Regions from separate parts of the Homo sapiens genome. Here regions 2 and 3 are each linked to region 1. A link means that fine-mapping ties the variant in region 1 to the plasma level of a protein whose gene starts in the linked region. Region 1 holds a variant in brackets. A gene starts in each other region. All regions are shown on their reverse strands.

Region 1 (7,103 bases):
ACCAGCCTGGTCAACATGGCAAAAACCCGTCTCTACTAAAAATACAAAAGTTAGCCGGGTGTGATCATGCACACCTGTAAGCCCAGCTACTCAGGAGGCTGAGGCAACAGAATCGTTTGAACCTGGGAAGTGGAAGTTACAGTGAGTCAGGATCGCACCACTACACTCCAGCCTGGGCGACAGACGCGAAACTCCATCTCAAAAAAAAAAAAGAAAAGAAAAAAAAGAAAAAGAAAATCTGATTGTTTGGTCAAAAGGTATATCTTTATTTAAAGGCAAGTGGAATTCTTTCTTAGAATAAAATATGTTTCTAGATCTTTCATTAAGCAGAAAATAACCCTCCAAACATTTATGTTGTCATTTTTCAAAAGTAGAACAGGAATTTAGAACATTTTAAAGCAGAAACTAACGATTAGCTGGCCAAACCGTTACTAGAGTGTGGAATATGTTAGTAATTCAAAAAGAAGCTACTGGAAACATTGTAATTTTTAAAATTTTTTAAATGAATAGTTTTATCTTCAAACGGAAAGCCTCCACATTCGTTGTCTTTGTGATAAAGTTGAAAAGTTTCCATCCTATTAGAAATGTGATGTAGTTCTCTTACTGATTGTTTTTAACATGTAAATTTGAGATTATCCTGACCGGAGGGAAAAAGATAGTGAAAATGTAGGACAGAGGACCAAAGTTTCTTTGTCACTAAGGCTGTACATGACTGAAAAAAAAAATGATGGTTATAGAACAGAACAGACAAAACAAAAATGTTTCTCAGACATTGTTTCACTGGCTTATGAAAATAATAGTTTAAATGGGTCATTTGTGGCTTTCAAATATAAATAAATCATATACAAAAGTGACTGCCTAATTTACATTTATATATATTTCAGAAGCAAATACATTTAATTGAATTATGTATATAATCACATTCAGGGTTGGTTTGTTTCTTTGAGACAGAGTCTTGCTCTGTCGCCCAGGCTGGAGTGCAGTGGTGCAATCTGGGCTCACTGCAACCTCCACCTCCCGGGTTCAAGCGATTCTCCTACCTCAGCCTCCCAAGTGGCTGGGATTACAGGCGCGTGCCATGATGCCCAGCTATTTTTTGCATTTTTAGTATAGACGGGGTTTCACCATGTTGGCCAGGCTGGTCTCAAACCCCTGACCTCAAGTGATCCGCCCGCCTTGGCCTCTGAAAGTGCTGGGATTACAGACGTGTGCCACCATACCTGGCCCAGGGTTTGTTTTTTAATTACATAAGTGTGTATATCACATTAGTAAAATTAAAAATTAGGATCAGTACTAAAATCTGTGAAGTTTAAACAAAATGCAGCCAACCACCCCACAAAGAATTTACCCCATGACCTTGACCTCGTTGAAACAAAGATTTATCAGGCTACAAGAGGCCACTGGGGCAAAAAATAAATCCAAATCTTGGGGAAGGGATGTCACAGAAGATGGTGGTGTGGGAAACTCCAGGAATTCATCCCTCCATCTAAGCAGCCATCAAATGGACAGGAACTGACTGAAGTAACTGCAGGTGCTCCTCTACTCATGATCAAATTAGGCCCTGTTAAACCCAATGTGAGTTGAAATATGCTAAGTCAAAAATGCACTTAATACACCTGACCTACCAAACATCACGGCTCAGCGTAGCCTACCTTAAACGTGTTGAGAACACTTACATTAGCTTCCAACTGGGCAAAATTGATAGGGACAGGAGGCAGAGAAGTGCTAGGTAGAGAAGGGCAGGATCCCTGGCGAGGGCTCCACCCTCGGACCTGTGCCCACGGACCTAAGTGGGAACAGGCACTCCTGTTTTCATGCGCAAATGTTACATTTCCAAGACCACTATGATTCACCACACCCCGCATCCTGTGCCCATAAAAACCTGAGACCTTAATGGGCATAGACACAAGCGCTAAACATTGAGAAGAGTGAAGGAATAGAGCAGTGGAGAGCAGTGGGGTGGCGCAGCAGAGAAAGAGAGAAGAAGGACATCTGGACACCAAGGGGAGTTTGGCCAGCAGTGGTTGGAGAATAGTCTGGGGGGTTAGGCAGCCTGGCTCCAGGGGAAGACCACCTTCCCACTCCACTCCCCACTTCCAGTTCCCCATCCATCTCGCTGAGAGCCACCTACACCACTCAATAAAACCTTGCACTCAACCCTCCAGCCCACATGTGATCTGATTCTTCCAGTACACTGGGCAAGAACTCAGGCTGTCACACTGCCTCCCTGTCCTTGTGATAAGGCAGAGGGTCTATTGAGCTGACTAACACAAGCTGTCTGCAGATGGTATAGCTGAAAGAGCACA[C/G]TGTAACACACGCCCACTTGGGCTTCAGGAGTCCTAGATGCTGCCGTGGGGTGGAGCCCAAAAGCACTCCCCACAGCCTCTGCACCTGCCCATCTGCATGCTGCATGCTCCCCCCTAGGGGTTTGAGCAGCAGGGCACCAAAGGAGCAAGCCTCATTCCTGTCGCACCCCCTGCGAGGGTCATAAGGGAACTCTTCTATTTCAAAATCATCTAACAAAACCTATTTTATAATACAGTGTTGAGTATCTCGTAATTTATTGGATATGGTACTAAAAGTGAGAAGCAGAATGGGTGTATGGGTATTCGAAATACATTTTCTACTGAATGCACCATTTCTATTTCACATCATCATAAAGTGGGTAAATCATTATGTCTAACAATCCTAAGTCAAGGACCATCTGTATTTGGGAACTAGTCTAGTCAGAAACTTGGAGCATCCAAGGGAGAGCTTGATAAAGAGGCTGGTACATTTCAGCGAATTTCAGCTTCTCCCTGTGGTTATGGCTGTGTCAGGCAGCTGTGAAGGGGGAAGCAGCCCACACGCCCAGTGCAGCTAGGTGAGGCCAGGCCGGGCAACAAGGATTTAGCCCTCCAAATGTCAGGACTGTGTGTTCTGATTGGTGCTTTTATTTGCTTTCATCACTTCTCTTCAACTTAGTACTGGAAGTTCTAATAAGAGCATGTAGGAAAGAAAAAAATAAATAAAAGCATCCAAATTAAAAAGGAAGAAGTGAAATTATCTCTGTACACAGATGGCCTGATTTTAAATGTAGGAAGTCCTAAAGCTTACACACACACACACACACACACACCACACACAAATACCACATACACATACACAATAGACACATACACACCACACACACACACCACACACACATACATACACACGCCACACACACACACATACACACCACACACACAAACTGTAGCACTAACAAATTTAACAAAGTTGCAGGACACAAAATCAAAACACAAAAATCAGTTGAATTTTGATACACTTGTAATGAACAATCTGAAAATAAAATTAAGAAAATTCCATTTGCAATAGAATCAAAAAGAACAAAATACTTAGGAATAAATTTAACTACGTAGACAAAAGACTTGTCCACTGAAAACTACAAATGGTTGCTGAAAGAAAAAGACCTAAATAAATGAAAAGATACCCTGTGTTCATGAAATGGAAGACTTGATATTGTTAAGATGTCAATATTATCCAATATAATCTATAGATTCATGCAATCCCTATCAAAATCCCAATGATTTTTTTTTTTTGCAGAAATGAAAAACCCCATCCTAAAGTTCATATGGAATTTCATGGGAGTCTGCACAGCCAAAACAATTTTGAAAAAGAATGAAGTTGAACGATTCACACTTCCTGATTTCAAATCATACTACAAAATGACAGTAATCTAAACAGTGTGGTACAGGCATAAGGATAGCCATATAGGCCAATGGAATACAATAGAGAGGCCAGAAATAAACCTATGTGGGCAGTTGATTTCCAACAAGGTGCCAAAAGCATTCAATGAGGAAAGAACAGCATTTGTGCTGGGAAAACTGGCCATCCACAGGAAAGAGAATGAAATTGGACTCTTACCTTACATTAAATACAAAAATTAACCCAAAGTGGATCAAATGCCTAAACATAAGAGCTAAAAACTATAAAACTCTTAGAAGAAAACGTCAGGAAATAAAATCTTCACAACATTGGATTTGACAATGATTTCTTGGATTGGATACCAAAAACACAAGCAATAAAAAAGTAGATAAAAAGGCCTTTATCACAGTTAAAAACTGTGTCCACCAAAGTACACTATCTAGAAAGTGAAAAGACAGCACAAAATAGAAAATATCTGTAAATCACATATCTGATTAAGGGATGAATATCCAGAATATATTAACAACTACAACTCAATAACCACAACAAAACCAAATACAAAATGGTCGGTGGACCTGAACAGATAATTCTCCAAAGAAGATATACAAGTGGCCAATAAGCTAAGCACATGTAAAGATGCTCAACATCATTAGTCATTAGGGAAATGTAAATCAAAACTACAATGAAATAGAATTTCACACCCAAAAGAATTATTACTTTAAAAAAACAGAAAATAACAAGTGATGGTGAGAATATGAGAAATTGGAACCCTCGGGCATTGCTGGCGGGAATGTAAAATGGTGTAGCCACTGCGGAAAACAGCTTGGCAATGCCTCACAAAGTTACACTATAATTATCATACGATCCAGCAATTCTACTTCTAGGTATATACCCAGAAGAACTGAAATTAGGGACTCAAACACATATTTGTACAACAATGTTCAAAGAAGTTTTACTTATGATAGCCAAAAAGTAGAAGCAACTCAGGTGTCTGTTAGCAGATAAACAAATGTGGTATGAACATACAGTGGGATATTATAGAGCCGTAAAAAGGAATCCTGATACCTGCTATATGTACAACCTTTCAACATTTTGCTAAGTGAAATAAGCCAAACATAAACGGACAAATATTATGTGATTCCACTTATGTGAGGTATATAGAATAGGTAAATTCAGAGACATAGGAAGAAGAGAGTTTACTAAGGGGTGGGAGGTGGAGGATGGAGGAGAATGGAGAGTTATTGTTTAATGGGCACAGAGCCCATTGGATGTTGGATGATGAAAAGTTCTGGAAATACAGAGTGGTGATAGTTAAACAACATGGTGAATATGTTTAGAGCCATTGAATTGTACAGTTGAAATGACTACAATAATAATTGTGTTATGTATCCTTTACCAAACTTTTTTAAAAATCCAACTCATGCCATCCTGTCTACACCCTTCTACTAAGTTCTGGTTCTGAATTTTGGTTAGCTATTGATGATGGTGGTTATTTTTAACTAGTCCTTTCTTCAAGCTAAAATATAAAGGAAATTCTCATTTTTTTATTGGCAAGACAATCAACTGTGTCATTTCCTCCTAGACTTTCTCAAACACCAGCCACCTCCTACCCACTCAGTTTCACGTATGATGAACTTAGTGTCTGCTTTGCTCTGAAATAGTTCCAAGAAAAATAGCTGGGCAAAATTTTTCATAACCTGTTACATCATTTCTCACAGATAAAACTGGTAAGCCCTTCAGAAATGGTGTTTTCAGTAAGCCTATCTTTTAATGAACAAATTTATTCAACTCTTATCAACATAATTCCTACCAGCCAAAAGAAAAAAAAGATATTTTTGAGTAAAAATTTAAAAATTTAGATGTTCTTATACCTCATATTTTTCAGTCCTTACCAAAACCATAGCAAAACATCAACAATGCATTTACAGTTTAATAGAAAACTACTATATCATAGCAATCCAATTTCTTTGCATTCAATTACTTACATAAAATTAGGCTTTAATTGTAACTGTCTTCAGATAACATATTTAGACTTATTGTAATCAACAGTGTGTAGATTCATAGTATTTGAAGGACCTTTGAATTTTGTATTTCTATAACCAATACTTTGTTTCATTTGGTTTTGTCTTGGCACACATCGTTTTAATATACTAAATTTTACAAAGTAATTTAATTAAAAGGCTATTTGACCCATTTAATTTTTGAAACAAATTTTTTTTTTTTGAGATGGAGTGTCGCTCTGTCACTCAGGCTGGAGGGCAGTGGCGCAGTCTCAGCTCACTACAAGCTCCGCCTCCTGGGTTCACGTCATTCTCCAGCCTCAGCCTCCCCAGTAACTGGGACTACAGGCACCCGCCACTACGCCTGGCTAATTTTTTGTATTTTTAGTAGAGATGGGATTTCACCGTGTTAGACAGCATGCAGGATGGTCTCGATCTACTGACCTCGTGATCCACCCGCCTCGGCCTCTCAAAGTGCTGGCGTGAGCCACTGCGCCCGGCAGAAACAAATTTTAAGAATAAGATTAAACATGTGTTTATAATCTGAAAGTGACCTATACTTTACAGATGGAAACCAAGACACAACAATGTTGGGCTGGTTCTTCAGAACAACACTTACTATGTAAGATTATGTATAATTTTTAGCAATTTGAAACGCAAATTTTCTATTTATTCACTCAAATATTCTGAACACCTCTAAGGTATCTGAGTTAAATATTTAAAAGAAAAAAGTTTTGTAGAGAAAGAAGGCATTCCTTAAAAATCCATTATTTCCATTTCAATATAAGAATAATTACAAGTTAAAATAAAAAATAATCTTATTAAAAATAGGCATATCTTGGGAAATTAAGATGTGTGTATATATAAATGCACACTTTCACAGCAAGTGTTACTTTAGTAAATATTATCCTCAAATTCATATAAAACCATACCTAGTCTATAACAGGCACTCAAATTTGTCAAATGACAAATTAATGAAATTTCCAAAAAATAATCTTCAGGATATGGTAATATATGTAAAAGCTCTTGTAAATAATTGTTAATACAAATATCTCAGGTTACTAAAGCTATTAATCACTAGTACTCAGGGATGTAGAGGTTGTGCATTGTTCAACCTGAAGGGGCGCTGTATGATTTAGAATTCATTAATTAATCTCACCTGTAAACATTGGAAACACCTTTCGAATGCAGTTGGATCTGGTTCTCAGTGTCTCTGTGTGGGCAGGTGTACATGGCTCTCTGTTTCTCTATTTTTTCACCTTCTGACTCTACTGTTTGTGTGTTTGGATTCGATTACTACAGAGCACAGAAGGTGGATGTGAGACAGACAACCAGGAAGCTGAACATTGTATAAGAGCTGTGACGGTTAATATTCAGTGTCCACTTGATCGGATTGAAGAATACAAAGTATTGTTC
Region 2 (7,103 bases), not on the chromosome of region 1:
AGCCCCTGCCCTGCGCCCCTCCCTGCCTGCCTCCCTTCGGGGGATGCCCGAGGACACTTACCAAACACGTTGAGCCGCGCAGTGGCCTCAGCAGTGCCTGCCGCCCCTGCCCTCACCACGCACACGTAGTCTCGCTCGTCGCCCACCTGGGCCTCAGCCAGCACCAGGCGCCCCTGGGAGTCCAGCTGGTATGGGGGACTGCGGCCCCGGGTGTCGTGCATTGTGACCTGGAGCTCAGAGCCCTGCATCTCAGCCGAGGCTAGGCGGGGGCGAGCTCCCGAGCGGTCGGTCTGTGGGCGCGGGGCAGGCTCTCAGCTCCGGGTGTCCCAGCGCTCCTCAGTCTCTCTCTCTCTGGGTCCTTTCTCTCTGCAGCTCCTGGCTCTGCCTCTTTTCCTCTTGTTATGGGTCTCCCTGGTCCCTCTGTCCCTCCCCACCTTCTCCTGCCCCCATTCCCTATCAGTTCTTGATTTTTCCTGTCTCCTTTTCTCCATCTCATTCCGGTCCCATCCCTTCTCCTCTTGGTCTCTCCCTCTCCCGATTGTCTCTCATTTTCTTTCCTCTTTTTTTTTGAGATAGAGTCTTGCTCTGTCGCCTGGCTGGAGAGCATTGGCTCGATCTCGGCTCACTGCAACCTCTACCTCCCAGGTTCAAGCGATTCTCCTGCCTCAGCCTCCTGAGTAGCTGGGATTACAGGCACATGCCATCACGCCCAGCTAATTTTTGTATTTTTAGTAGAGACGGGGTTTCACCATGTTGGTCAGGACAGTCTTGATCTCTTGACCTCGTGATCCACCCGCCTCGGCCTCCCAAAGTGCTGGGATTACAGGCGTGAGCCACCGTGCCTGGCTTCTGCTTTCTTGATGTCTGTCTCTGTTCTCTCTCTCAAGAGCCCGCAGTCCAGAGCAGGTCAATGTCATTCTAGACTTGGCTGTGCCTAGACACGGGGCACCTTGCAGATCCCTTCCCCTCAGTGGGACTCAGTGACCCCATCTGTAACAAGGAGTGTGGCTTGGTGGATCTCTACAGGCCTTAGGCACTGATGAGAGAATGAACCTTTGCTGCCCTGCTGTGCCCTGACTCCAGGCCCCCCAGCCCCAAGCACTCACAAGGAACCATTCCAGCATATAATGGTCGTGGGTTCCCGTAGGGGTGCAGTCCAGAATGACAGACTTTCCTCGCATCACCTCCACCAGCGGGGGTACAGACAAGCGCACCTCCGCCTGGGCATCTGCAAGAGAGCAACTGAGCTATCATCCACCACACCAACAGGAAGAGCCCTCCAGACAGGGTCCCCTCTCCCCCAGGACACAAGCGTCCAGGTCCCAGCCCCTCCTCCCTCAGACCCAGGAGTCCAGGTGCCAGCCCCTCCTCCCTCAGACCCAGGAATCTGGGCCCCTGTCCCCTCCTCCCTCAGACTCAGGAGTCTAGGCCCCAGCCCCTCCTCCCTCAGACCCAGGAGTCTAGGCCCCAGCCCCTCCTCCCTCAGACCCAGGAGTCCAGGCCCCAGCCCCTCCTCCCTCAGACCCAGGAGTCTAGGCCCCAGCCCCTCCTCCCTGAGATCCTTTCGCCCTCCATCCCTTCTCCCTGCATCTCTGGGTCTCAAATCCATCTCTCCCTGCACTTGCAGAGCTCAGGGCTCCTCCTCTGGGCTGCACAGGGCCCTGTGGCCTCCGCTGAACACTCCTGGGGTAATACTGCACCAGCCTTTGCTTATCCCAACAGAGCACACGCCACCCCCCAGGGCAGGGCCAGGCCTGGCTCAGCCATTTGCCTCCAGCACCCTGGGCAGGGCCACCTCTGTGATGATGGATAAATGTTTCTCTCCATCCTGGTCTCCACCTTTGCGTGTGTCTCTCCTCTTGGGTCTCCATCTCTGTCCCTGTCTCTGCCTCTCTCTGCACCTGCACCACTCAGTCCCTGGGTCTCTTCCGCTCTCCCATGAGTGAGGGGCTGGGGTGTGGGCTGCGGCTGGGCCCGGAGCTTAGGCGGGATGGATGTGTGGGGGCGGTGAGGGGGGACAGGGCTGGGCAGGTTTCAGGAATGTGGGAGGGACAGGCTGGCTGAGACCTGCCCGGCCTGGAGCCAGAGCCCCCAGCCGCCTCTTGGCCCCCCTCAGTTTGATACAACAGCAAACGGGATAAGTCGAGTCATCTTGCAAAAGGATAAGGTTGAGGCCCAGGATCTTGGGAAGCTGGGCACCTGGACTCCTGGGATCAGAGGGAAGAGGAGGCTGGGGCCTGGTGGAGTAGTTATTGTAGAAAAACCACCACCCTCCCTCACCCTCTGGGCTGGCATCCTGGCATCAGCTCTCAGTGCTTCTTAGAAACTCCCTTCCCTTCTCTGCTCAATCTGGCCCAGCCCTACCCCTGGGGACCCACTGTTGACCATGAGTGTGCCAGGGGCCTGGATTCCCAAGCGCTCACCTCTGGCCCCAGCCTGTCCCCAGGGAGGGGTGACGGGGTCCAGGCTGGTGCCTAAGGCTGGGTCTGATCTGCAGACAAGTGGAGGCAGAGAGTTCCTCTCTCTTCCCCAATCTCTCTCATCTCTCTGTCCCTCTGTCCCCAGCACCCCCACCCCCACCCCCCAGCCCCCGGCCTCCTCTCCTTCTATCCTCATGCAGGTGTGTAAATGTAGCTGAGGCCCCAGGAAGGGGGCCTGTCACTTGGAAACACTTTGTTCCACTGTCACTGCCCGGGGCTGGTGCTCCAGCCCTTTCCTGAGGGAGGCGGGTTCTTTATACTGGACTCTGGAAACTCCTAAATACATGTGGATCGCTGGTGTGGGGACACATGGTCCTCGCTTCTCTAAGGGGTCCCTGGACCTCTCAAAACTTGAGGACCTTTGAGGGAGAGAGCCCTGGGGTTTTGATCCTCTGTGCCCTGGGGGAAGCTATTCTAGCCACTGGAGGCCTGGACTCCTGGGTCTGAGGAAAGAGGGGCTGGGGGCCCAGATTCCAGGGTCTGAGGGAGGAGGCAGGTGGGACCCAGATTCCAGGGTGCTGAGTGGGAAGGGGGCTGACTTCTCTGGTTGTCTCTGATCCACCGCCTGGGTATCCCCAGCTCTCCTGCCTGGCTGTCCCCAGATCTCTCTCACTGGAAGGCGTACCTTCCAACACTCCCATATCCCTCCTCCTTGGGGTCCCCACATTTTGCTTCCTGGGGTCAGGGTAAAGCCCTTTCTCCTCGCTTTCCCGGGGTCCCCAGGGGCCTCTCCCCAGTCCCACCTTGCCCTCAGCCCGAGCCATACCTGGGTGCGCCGCCAGCAGGACTGCGAGCAACAGCAGCCGCGGGGCCCCGCGCGCCTGGGCCGGTGCGTCCGGGGGCTCCATGTTCACGGCGGCGGCGGAGACTGAGCCCGGGCTGCAGCTCGGCCGCTGCGGGGCTGGGAGCCAGAGGCCCCGCCCCCGGCAGCCCCGCCCCGCCCCGCCCTCCAGGCCCCCCTCGTCCCCCGATGCCCGGGCGCGGGGCCAGGACCTCCCACTGCCCGGAGCGGACCTCCCAGTGCACGGGGCCAGGCTCGGGGCTCGTCCGCCCCCAAGCCTAGAGCTGTCCGGGCTTACTGACCAGCGCCTGCAGCGGGGGGCCTGATCGACCAGCGTAGCCAGTGACCCGAGCTGGGATCTCACCAGGCAATCGCGGACCTTCTCCTCGTTATTCTGACCAGGGGCCTTGGGGACTCGTCCCCACTGTGACCAGCAGCCTGGGCTGGCATCGTCGATTTTAACCAGAGGACCCCACTGCAACCTGTGGCCTGCGATGGCCTCTCCCAGTGTAACTAATGGCCCCAAGCGTGCCGTCCGAGTGGCCTGCACTGGCCTCTCCCAGTCCAACCAGTGACCCCCGCAGCCTGACCAGTGGCCCCCAGCAGCTGCTCCCAGTATGCCCGGAGATGTTTTCCCCTGTGGTCAGTGCTCTGGGCTGCTTTCCTCGTCTGACCAGTAGCCTGGAATCAACCGGTTTAATCTCTTATTTTCAATGGTCTTCAAATCCAGGTCCTCCTAGGCCGCTTCGATGATGGGGCTGGGGGTGGGGTACGGGGTGCCCTCTCTGCTTGCTCACCCATGGAAGGCCCTCCCACTCTTCCCCCTATCCAGGGAATCCCAGGAATGCCACCCTCCCTTCCTCCTTCCCGCTCTCTCCTTCATTCCCTCCCAACCTTGTGGGGAAGGGAGGAGTCAGACTGGCCAGAGCAGGTGAGGAGGGCAGGGGAAGAGGCCAGGGCACCTGCGGGAAGGGGGAGGAGTCCAGCCACTGCTAGGAAGCGTGGGTCACAGGTCCGACTGCCCAAGGCCCCTACAGGCCAGGTCAGACTGGGACAAAATCCCCCACTAGATGTCACTAGTTGCCCAGGACAGTGGTCAGAACGTGGGAGGGTGGGGGGTCGCTGGCCACACTGGGAGAGGTTACCCAAGCTTCTGATCAGCCTGGGGGTTGAGGTAGCCCTGGAGCTGGGCTTTGCCTGCTCAGACATACAGAGAAGGCTTGGATTACAGGTCAGCCTGGGAGTTATTAGACTGGTCAAGGTTACTTTATCCATTGGTCATACAGGAGACCAACGTTTTTTTTGTTTGTTTGTTTTGTTTTTGACAGGGTCTCGCTCTGTTGCCCAGCCGGGAATGCAGTGGGCGCAATCATAGCTCATTCAAACCTCAACCGCCTGGGCTCAAGCAATCCTTCCACTTCAGCCTCCCAAGTAGCTGGGACTATAGGCTTGTGTTACCATGTCCAGCTAATTTTTGTATTTTTTTGGTAATAGAAACAGGGTATTACTATGTTGCCCAGGCTGGTCTCCAACTCTTGGGCTCAAGTGATCCTCCTGCCTTCCAAAGTGCTGGGATTACAGGCATGAGCCACTGCATCCATCCTACAGAGCAACTGTTACATTGGGAAAGACCTTTTAGGATTAACTGTACCATCCCCTCCTCCAGGAAGTCCCCTCTGCCTTCCCTGGCTGGGTCAGGTTCCCCCTCTGGGCTCCCCCACCTGAGCCCGGCACACTCTGGGGGTCCCTGGCTGGGGATAGGTCTGTCTCCCTCAGTGGACTGTGAGCCTGTGAGGGCAGGGCCAGGGATGTCTTGATCACTGTGGTGAGCTAAGGGCTCCTCCCCTGGGCACCCCGCCCAGCACAAGACCAGACACAGTGCAGGTGCTCAGGGAAGGTTTGTTTGCAAGGCACACAAACTCACGTGCAGATTCCATCCAGACTGGAGCATCCCAGGATATACAATACAAACTCACTCATGGGGAATGCGGCGGCACTCCAAGACAGTCCCAGGTGCTGTCAAGCTCACACACTGTGAGCACCGACACCCATACCCTAGCTCTTCTGTCCCCAGCCTGTGCACCTTCTGTTTGGGCTGGACCCTGGTACATGCCCTCTCAGCAGCCATCGCCCACTTCCACCTCCCTCAAGAACCCAGCCAGCTGAGGCTGGGCGCTGTGGCTCATGCCTGTAATCCCAGCACTTTAGGAGGCCGAGGTGGGTGGATCACCTGAGGTCAGGAGTTCGAGACCAGCCTGACCAACATGGTGAAACCGCATCTCTACTAAAAATACAAAATTAGCTGGGCGTGGTGGCACATGCCTGTAATCTCAGCTACTCAGGAGGCTAAGGCAGGAGAATCGCTTGAATCTGGGAGGTGGAGGTTGCACTGAGCTGAGATCGTGCCACTGCACGATGTTGCCTGGGCAACAAGAGTGAAATTCTGTCTCAAAAAAAAAAAAAAAAAAAAGAAGAACCTAGCCATCTGAGGTTCTGGGTGAGGGAGGAGAACTCTATGGCATGTGTATGAAGGAGAAAAGTCAGAAACACCAAAACAGCAGCCGTGGACCCTTGCAGACTTGCAGAAACTAGTCTTGTAACATCATCTGCCTTTGTCCCCTGTAATTTATTCTCACAAAACAGCCTGAAGGATTCCTTTTACATGTGAATCAACTCATGTCACTCTTCTGCCCCAGGGTCCTCCCATGACTTCTGTCTCACTTAGGGTAAAAGCTGAGGTCCAGGTCAGCCGCAGGGACTCACGTCTGTAATCCCAGCAATTTAGGAGCCTGAGGCGGGAGGACTGCTTGAGCCCGGGAGTTTGAGACCAGCCTGGGCAACATAGCGAAACCCCGTCTCTACAAAAAAATATAAAAATGGCCAGTCATGGTGGCCCATGCCTGCAATCCCAGCACTTTGGGAGGCCGAGGTGGGTGGATCACCCGAGGTCAGGAGTTTGAGACCAGCCTGGCCAAAATGGTGAAACCCCCTCTCTACTTAAAATAAAAAAATTAGCCAGGGGTTGTGGCAGGTGCCTGTAATCCCAGCTACTCGGGAGGCTGAGGCAGGAGAATTGCTTGAACCTAGGAGGTGGAGGTTGCAGTGAGCTGAGATCATGCCATTGCACCCCAGCCTGGGTGACAGAGCGAGACTCAGTATCAAAAAAAAAAAAAAAAAAAAAAAAAGTTCTAATTCCATCCATGCGGCCGCAGGTGTATATCCTCACATATTTTAACTAACAAGGCTTATCTTTTCTGAAACTCTGGGCTCAAGCGATCCTCCTACCTCAGCCTCCCAAAGTGCTGGGATTATAGGTGTGGGCCACCACGGTTGGCCAGACTTACCTTTTCATTGTTTTTGAGACAGAGTTTCACTCTTGTTGCCCAGGCTGGAATGCAATGGCGTGATCTTGGCTCACTGCAACCTCCGCCTCCCAGGTTCAAGCAATTCTCCTGCCTCAGCCTCCCAAGTAGCTGGGATTACAGGCATGCGCCACCATGCCCGGCTAATTTTGTGTTTTTAGTAGAGACAGGGTTTCACCATGTTGGCCAGGCTGGTTTCGAACCCCTAACCTCAGGTGATCCACCAGCCTCAGCCTCCCAAAATGTTGGGATTACAGGCGGAAGCCACAGTGCCTGGCTGACTTATCTTTTCTTGACCTTTTTTCCCATTATTTTTCACACAGTGTGTGACGATTAACTTTACAACTAGCTCACAGCTTGTGGAATATGGGGAGAATGACATATTTGGAGGGGAATGGTTCTTCCCTGATTCCAGTCTCAGATCTGGAAAATGGAACTATTGAAATTTTTTGTATTGGGTGGCAGTGTGAATGCATTTTT
Region 3 (7,103 bases), not on the chromosome of region 1:
TGGAGCCCAGGAGTTAGAGAGCAGCCTGGGCAACAGAGCAAGACCCTGTCTCTACAAAATAAAAAAAATTAGCCAGGTGTGGTGGCACATGCCTTTGGCCCCAGCTAATCAGGAGGCTGAGGTGTGAGGACGGCTTGAGCCCAAGAGTTTGAGCTACAGTGAGCTGTGTTTGTACCACTGCGGTCCAGCTGGGGTGACAGAGCGGGAACCTACCTCAAAAACAAGAAAGAAATGGAGACAGAGAGGAAGAGAGAGAGACAGGGAGGAGGGAAGAAGGAAGGGAGAGGGGGAGGGAGGAAGGAGGAAGGGAAGGAAGGAAGGAAGGAAAAGAGAAAAAAGAAAGAAACCAGTATCAATTGAATATTGTGAAATTCCTATCTGTTCCTAGTGAATTTTTTTTTTTTTTTTTTTTTTTTTTTTTTTTTTGACACAGAGTCTTACTCTGTCGCCCAGGCTGGAGTGCAATGGTGCAGTCTCGGGTCACTGCAACCTCCGCCTCCTGAGTTCAAGCAATTCTCCCGCCTCAGCCTCCTAAGTAAGTAGCTGGGATTACAGACACCTGCCATCATGCCCGGCTAATTTTTGTACTTTTGTACAGACAGGGTTTCACCATGTTGGCCAGGCTGGTCTTGAACTCCTGACCTCAGGTCATCCGCCCTCCTTGGCCTCCCAAAGTGCTGGGATTACAGACGTGAGCCACCACGCCCGGCCTCTGGTGAAATTCTTTCTCTCCTGAAGCAACTCTTCAGTATAGTAACCTGAGAAGTAAAATTTTACATTATAAGAAACTTTCGAAGGTGGCAAAAAAAAGAAGAAGAAATAAAGGAAAAAAGAAGAAACTGAGGCACAGAGAGGTTAAGCAACTTGCCTCATGTACCACAGCAGAGCTGGGATATGAAACTCAGGCTCTGATGCCAGAGACTGAGACCTTCATCACTGTGCCCCACTGTCTCCCATGATGACAAATTCCTGCCTTCTGGGACTTAAGGGATGACAGAAAGAGAAAACCCACAAAGGCTGAGTGGTAAGGTTTCAAGCATTTGGCACTTGCTCAAGAAAACTGTAGCCACTGTATTTATTGTTGTCTTCTTCCTTTATCGCCATCCAGTAGAGCCTGGGATGCAATGGGGGTAGGGACTGAGTAAAAGGAGAATGGGGCTGGGTGCAGTGGTGCACATCTGTGATCCCAGCACTTTGGGAGGCTGAGGTGGGAGGATCACTTGAGCCCAGAAGTTGGAGGCTGCAATGAGTGAGCTATGATTGTCACTGTACTTCAGGCCAGGCAACAGAGCAAGACCCTGTTTCAAAAAAAAAAAAAAAAAAAAGGAGACTGGGAGAGGAGGTGGCACCTGCCAAAGGTCACACGGCCAGTCGGGGGGCGTCTCCTGGACTTCAAAGCTCAGAGCCCCCCATCCCACCCCTGCCTTTTGTTCCTTCTAGAGAGATGCCTCCAGTACGTCTCTCCCAGTTCAAGGCAGGCTGAGGATGCAGAGGTCGCCAAGCTGCCCTCCCCTGCCGCCCTGATGAATTCCGCAGACTGGGGGCCTACAGCCCGGCCCGCCCAGGGCAGGGCGGCTGCCTTCACAACATACTTTCCTTCTGCATTCACAAAGGCAGGCAACGGTGGGGGCGGGAGGCAGGGAGCCGGGGCGCCCACACGTCTCCTGGCTGAGCAGACGTCTGCCAGGAAGGGCCCCGGGGCCCCATCATGCAGGCACCCGTCCCTCTTCCCCAGCCTGGCCGGGCTCCTGGAACCACGGGGCCTGGTGTGGGGCTGGCTGGGGCGCCGGCCAGATGCTCTGGCCAGGAGGTCCTGGGCCGAGAAGACATCCCAGTTAATGAGGGGCTCGGGCCAGCGAAATGCTGGATTCTGTTTCTGTGGCAAGGACAGAGAGGGCGGGTATGAAGGGCTTGAGGGTCTTGCATGCCTCAGTTCTAATTCTGGCTGTGTGACCTCAGACTGTCTCTTCTCCTCTCTGAGTAAGATAGAAATAAGAACGATCTGAGGTATAAGCGACAGGCACAGGGTATAAGTTTTTTTGTTTTGTTTTGTTTTTTTGAGACAAGGTCTCACTCGGTCGCCCAGGCTGGAGTGCAGTGATGTGATCTCGGCTCACTGCAACCTCTGCCTCCCCGGTTCAAGTGATTCTCCTGCCTCAGCCTCCCGATTAGCTGGGATTACAGGCACGCGCCACCACGTCCAGCTAATTTTTGTATTTTGAGTAGAGATGGAGTTTCACGTTGGCCACACTGGTCTCGAACTCCTGGCCTCAGGTGATCCACCTGCTGTGGCCTCCCAAAGTGCTGGGATTATAGGTGTGAGCCACCACACTGGCCCACGGTGTATAAATTTCATATGGAATAAGCACGCTAGTAGCGCTGGAGCTGGGCGCTGGGCTGAAGGATTTCCATGGGTCAGCTCATTCAATCCTCTCAACAGTGATCATCCTCATTTTATGGGTGAGAAAACTGAAGCACAGAGAGGTTAAGTGACTTGTCCTAGGTCACACAGTAAGGCCATGCTCACCAATATTTGAACCCAGGCTGTGTGGCCCCCTTCCCTGCCATATCAAGTACAGAGGTGGCAGGGGTTACTAGGATTCATATGATAATGTTGGCTGGGTGCAGTGGCTGAAATCCCAGGGTTTTGAGAGGCCGAGGAAGGAGGATCTGTTGAGCCCAGGAGTTCGAGACTAGCCTGGGCAACATAATAAGACCCCCATCTCTATTTTAAAAAAAAAAAAAAATAGTAATGACATTACATTAATTATAAAAAGTAGTAATGGCCAGGCGCGGTGGCTCACGCCTGTAATCCCAGCACTTTGGGAGGCTGAGGCAGGTGGATCACCTGAGGTCAGAAGTTCGAGACCAACCTGGCCAACATGGTGAAACCCCGTCTCTACTAAAAATATAAAAAAATTAGCTGGGCGTGGTGGCAGGTGCCAGTAATCCCAGCTACTCAGGAGGCTGAAGCAGGGGAATCACTTGAACTCAGGAGGCAGAGGTTGCAGTGAGCCGAGATTGCACCATCGCACTCCAGCTGGGCGACAAAAGTGAGACTCCATCTCAAAAAAAAAAAAAAAAAATAGTAATGAACACGAATCATAGGGATGCTGTCCCGGCTCACCAAGCCCTCCAGCCTAACCTTTCTACACCAGTCCAGGCCCCTGGGTGGGAGCCCCTCAGGCTCGGAGGGACAGAGCAAACCACAGACACTCACAGTCCCGAGGATCATGGCTAGGCTGGAAGGTTATCTGGAGAATATCAGCAGGGAAGGCTTCCTGGAGGAGGGGACATTATAGCTGGACCTTGAAGGATGGAGGAGTTTGTACGAGGTGGGGGGAACAGCAGGTACAAAGGCCCAGAATGACACCTACAGTGAGTTATTCTGTAATCTGAGGCAAGTGTGGTGTGCACAGGAGGAGGGGACTGCTGCCTAGAAGGGGGATTTCAGGGCTGGCGAGATCCAGGAGGCAGGAGTGTGACCCCAGACATCCCCTTTCCGGGCCTCTGTTGTCCGATCTTGGGACACCCTCAGGAACTCCACCTTTGTAGTTCCCTCCGCCTGGAATGCCCTTCCCTGCAACTCCCCGTGGCCCAGCCATGGATAAGGCCACGTGTGTCCAAGCCCCAGCACTGTGACCAGCCTGTGGCAGGGGCCTGGCTTCCATGTGCTCCTGTCCTAGCTGTGTGCAGCATATGCCAGCCCCCAGGCCCCACTGGAGCTGTGGTTTTCCCGAGAATTCCAGTGCTGCCAGGAGCGGCCCCCAGGTGTGCTGAAGGCCAAGGAAAACAGGAGGTGAGCTCATGGCCCCAATGTAGGCAGCAGGCAGGGCAGGCACTATTGAGGACAGGCTTCATTGGAAATGCTCTGGCTGGGACCAGCTGCTTCCACCAACACTCCACTTATAGGCCTGTCTCTCTTCACGCACTCTCTGTGGCTCCCCATTACCCTCGGGAGACCACTGGAGCCCCACACCACCAGCACTGCCCTTTCACACACAGCCTCATCTCCTGCTTCTCACTGAGCCCCAAGAGCTTGTCACCTTGAGGTCAGTCCATCCAACGGGCCAGGTTGGTTCCTGCCTCAGGGCCTTTGCCTATGCTGTTTCCTCTACCTGGAATGACTTTCTGCTACCTCTGCCTGGCTGTGTCCTCCTCATCATCCGGTCCTCAGCTTGGTGGTCCCTCCTCCTCCAGAAGCCCGCCCTGACCCATCCCCTTTCAAACAGATCAATTTCCTGGGGACTCCTACCATTGTCTGTGTGTCCCGTCACAGCCATGAGCCCACTGGGCTCCCCATTTGAAGGAGAGACTGGGTCTGGCTTCTTCACCCTGTGTGCCCATCACCCAGCACAGGAGACATGACACACAACAGTCCTTGATGTTTGTGAAATAATTATTGTGTCTAGAAATGTCCCCACCTCCAAGCTTCACATGCTTCCCTCCACCAAAACTGCCCTCACCTTTTCCCTCTGCTGATCCAAGTCCTCCTTTTCTTTTATGTCTGTCTCCTTGCTACCTCCTCCAGGAAGCCCTCGGTGACTTCTCTGTAGGCTCCCCAGAAAACATATCTGGCTCTGAGTCTAGATTCACCCCTGCCCTCGGGCAGTGGCCTTAGGCCAGTCACTTTTTCTCTCTGGGCCTCAGTTTCTCTGTCTATAGAATAGACGCTGTGAGTACTGGAAGGTGGGAGTGGAGAGTGTTAACTGATTGCAGGAGGTTAAGGGGTTTTGTAACTCCAGAGTGTGGCTGGCCAGTTAGCGGTAACTTTTATTTTTATTACAGGCTGTTCCCACAGCAGCTGGAGCACAGTTTGGAAGGTATGGCACAGCCTGGACAAACAGAAGCCCCGGACCTCCCCTTGCTAGAGCCCTTTAACTTGCTCCCCTCCAGATGGGGGCCTCACACCCCATTGCGCAGATTGGAAAACCAAGTGGGCCTGTCCCCTTGGACAGGGGTTGGGGCAAGATCCTGAACGCTGTCCCCTCCTCCACCAGCCGAGGGACCATGGGGAGGGGAGGGAACACCAGCAATGAGTTGGGTTGGGGGGAGTCATTTGCAGCCCTCCAGCGTTGGGGCCAGAAGCGGCCTCCTTGGACAGAGGCAGGAAAATTGAGAGTCCCAGGTCTCAACTGCCCCTCCCCTATTTTCCATTCATCATCATAATCATCATTACTATTAATCATTAATTAATAATTATTAACTTATTACCTCCATTGTGCAAGGGAGGAATTACGCCTGGGTAATTTTTGTACTTTTAGTAGAGATGGGGTTTCACCATGTTAGCCAGGCTGGTCTCAAACTCCTGACCTCAGGTGATCTGCCCGCCTTGGCTTCCCAAAGTGCTGGGATTACAGGTGTGAGCCACCGCACCCAGCAACTTACCCAGTTTTGAAGCACTTCAGGAGGAGTGGAGGGCCAGTCAGTCTGATCCATAGTGGGTGGACCTATTTTTTCAGACGCTGGTGACTCTGTTTCCCGAAGTGTGAGCTGAGAGCGTGGCCATGGAGCCTGCCTTGTTTGGAACTGGAACTCAGGTTTGGCATACAGCAAGCACTCAATCAATCAATCAATCAATGAGCTGAATGCTATGGCTGGATCCTGTAATCCCAGTTATGTGGGGAGTATCGCTTGAGGCCGGGAGTTTGAGACTACTAGCCTGCAGGACATAGCCAGACCCGGTCTCTAAAAATAAAAATAAAAATAAAAATAAATTAGCTGGACTTGGTGGTGCGGGCTTGTAGTCCCAGCTACATGGGAGACTGAAGCAAGAGGATGCGATACAGCCACACCCCGTCACACACACACACACACACACACACAGACGCACACACACAGTGAATGAAAGTGGGGGCAGTACCCCCTGACTCCCTGCCCCACCAGCTCTCTCCACAGACCCCGGGACTCAGTTTCCCCACCATGTCGGATTCAGCCGCGGGCGACTTCGCGGGGCATTCCGGGCGGGGACTTGAACGCAGGGGCCAGCGCCATCTGTTTACCTTGAGGCTGGACGTTGGGCAGGGCTGTGGTGGGCCGTCCCTGGGGCCGGCCGTGCCTTGGGGATAAATAGGCCCCGCGGGCCTCGTGGGCGGTAGAAAGCGAGCAGCCACCCAGCTCCCCGCCACCGCCATGGTCCCCGACACCGCCTGCGTTCTTCTGCTCACCCTGGCTGCCCTCGGCGCGTCCGGACAGGGCCAGAGCCCGTTGGGTAAGCCGCGTTAGCACCCGCGCCGTGCCCACGGCCCCACAACGGACTGTAGGACCCGTGAGAGGCCCGGGATCCAGGCTGTTTGGGGCTCACGGACTGTTCGTAGGGGACGTGCCGGGCGCAGAAAGCAGGTGGCGGGACCGAGACTAGAGGAGCGCAGTGGGGCCTCGGAGGTCCGGGTTCGCTGCAACGGTGGGAGTTGGTGGTGGGATTCCCCGGCCCCATGACGCCTCACCAGGTCCCCTGCCGCCGCAGGCTCAGACCTGGGCCCGCAGATGCTTCGGGAACTGCAGGAAACCAACGCGGCGCTGCAGGACGTGCGGGAGCTGCTGCGGCAGCAGGTGCGGGGCCCGGGTGCGGGGCAGGGAGTGCCAGGGAACGGAAGGGGGTCTCAGTTCCCAGCGAGGAGAGAGGAAGTACCCGAGAAGGTGGAGAGGAGATGGGGAGGGAAGGGGGTCGGCGGGTAGGGAGTCCTTGGCGAAAAGAGGCTGTAGAAAGGGACCCCGGGGTAGAGAGAGGGGAGACCCGAGGGATGAGGAGAGGTTGGGACCCCGCTGATTCCATCCCACCCCTGCAGGTCAGGGAGATCACGTTCCTGAAAAACACGGTGATGGAGTGTGACGCGTGCGGTGAGCGCGGCGGGGCGGTCGGGAGAGAGAAGAGACGGGAGACAGAGACACAGAGACAGAGACAGAGAGCCAGGGAAAGCTGGGGAGGAAAAGAGACGGAAGGAGATGGAGGCTGACGGAGAGGTGGACGGACGAACGGGAATGGGATGGGGTGTGTAGAAACAGAGACAAAAAGAGACAGAAGCGGTGAGAGAGTTTTGGGGAAGTGAGAGACGCCACGGGGCAGAAAAGCGGGACAGAGACTCAGAGAAGAGACCGGGGAG

Alleles and levels. Alleles are on the strand shown, and positions count from the first base shown. The strength of an association depends on the size of the effect and on how common the allele is.
In carriers of allele G in region 1, the plasma level of the protein whose gene starts at base 3,350 in region 2 tends to be higher than with C alone (moderate association).
With allele C in place of G in region 1, the plasma level of the protein whose gene starts at base 6,097 in region 3 is lower (weak association).

Evidence for each region. PIP is the posterior inclusion probability: the model's chance that the variant is causal. Protein levels are from antibody-based Olink assays in UK Biobank. Linkage for the fine-mapping came from a reference panel and not from the study's own genotypes, which makes the PIPs less certain.
Region 2: it holds the start of BCAM, and the variant in region 1 is fine-mapped to the plasma level of the BCAM protein (UK Biobank, PIP above 0.99).
Region 3: COMP starts here. The variant in region 1 is fine-mapped to the plasma level of the COMP protein (UK Biobank, PIP 0.99).

Annotation. Positions count from the first base shown.
Region 1 is chr10:17,801,397-17,808,499 of GRCh38, reverse strand. No RefSeq gene overlaps it. Among named protein-coding and RNA genes, the nearest start is that of MRC1, 4.4 kb to the left of the region's middle. The variant C/G (reference allele first, on the strand shown) is at 2,307.
Region 2 is chr19:44,805,350-44,812,452 of GRCh38, reverse strand. BCAM (basal cell adhesion molecule (Lutheran blood group)) reads right to left here and starts at 3,350. Exons shown (of 15, transcript NM_005581.5): 1 at 3,247-3,350; 2 at 1,107-1,228; 3 at 62-290. The coding sequence starts at 3,328. RefSeq lists an enhancer at 1-176.
Region 3 is chr19:18,790,299-18,797,401 of GRCh38, reverse strand. It overlaps COMP (cartilage oligomeric matrix protein), which reads left to right and starts at 6,097. Exons shown (of 19, transcript NM_000095.3): 1 at 6,097-6,211; 2 at 6,467-6,552; 3 at 6,789-6,840. The coding sequence starts at 6,133. RefSeq lists enhancers at 1,693-2,222, 5,778-6,356, 6,357-6,937, 6,938-7,103.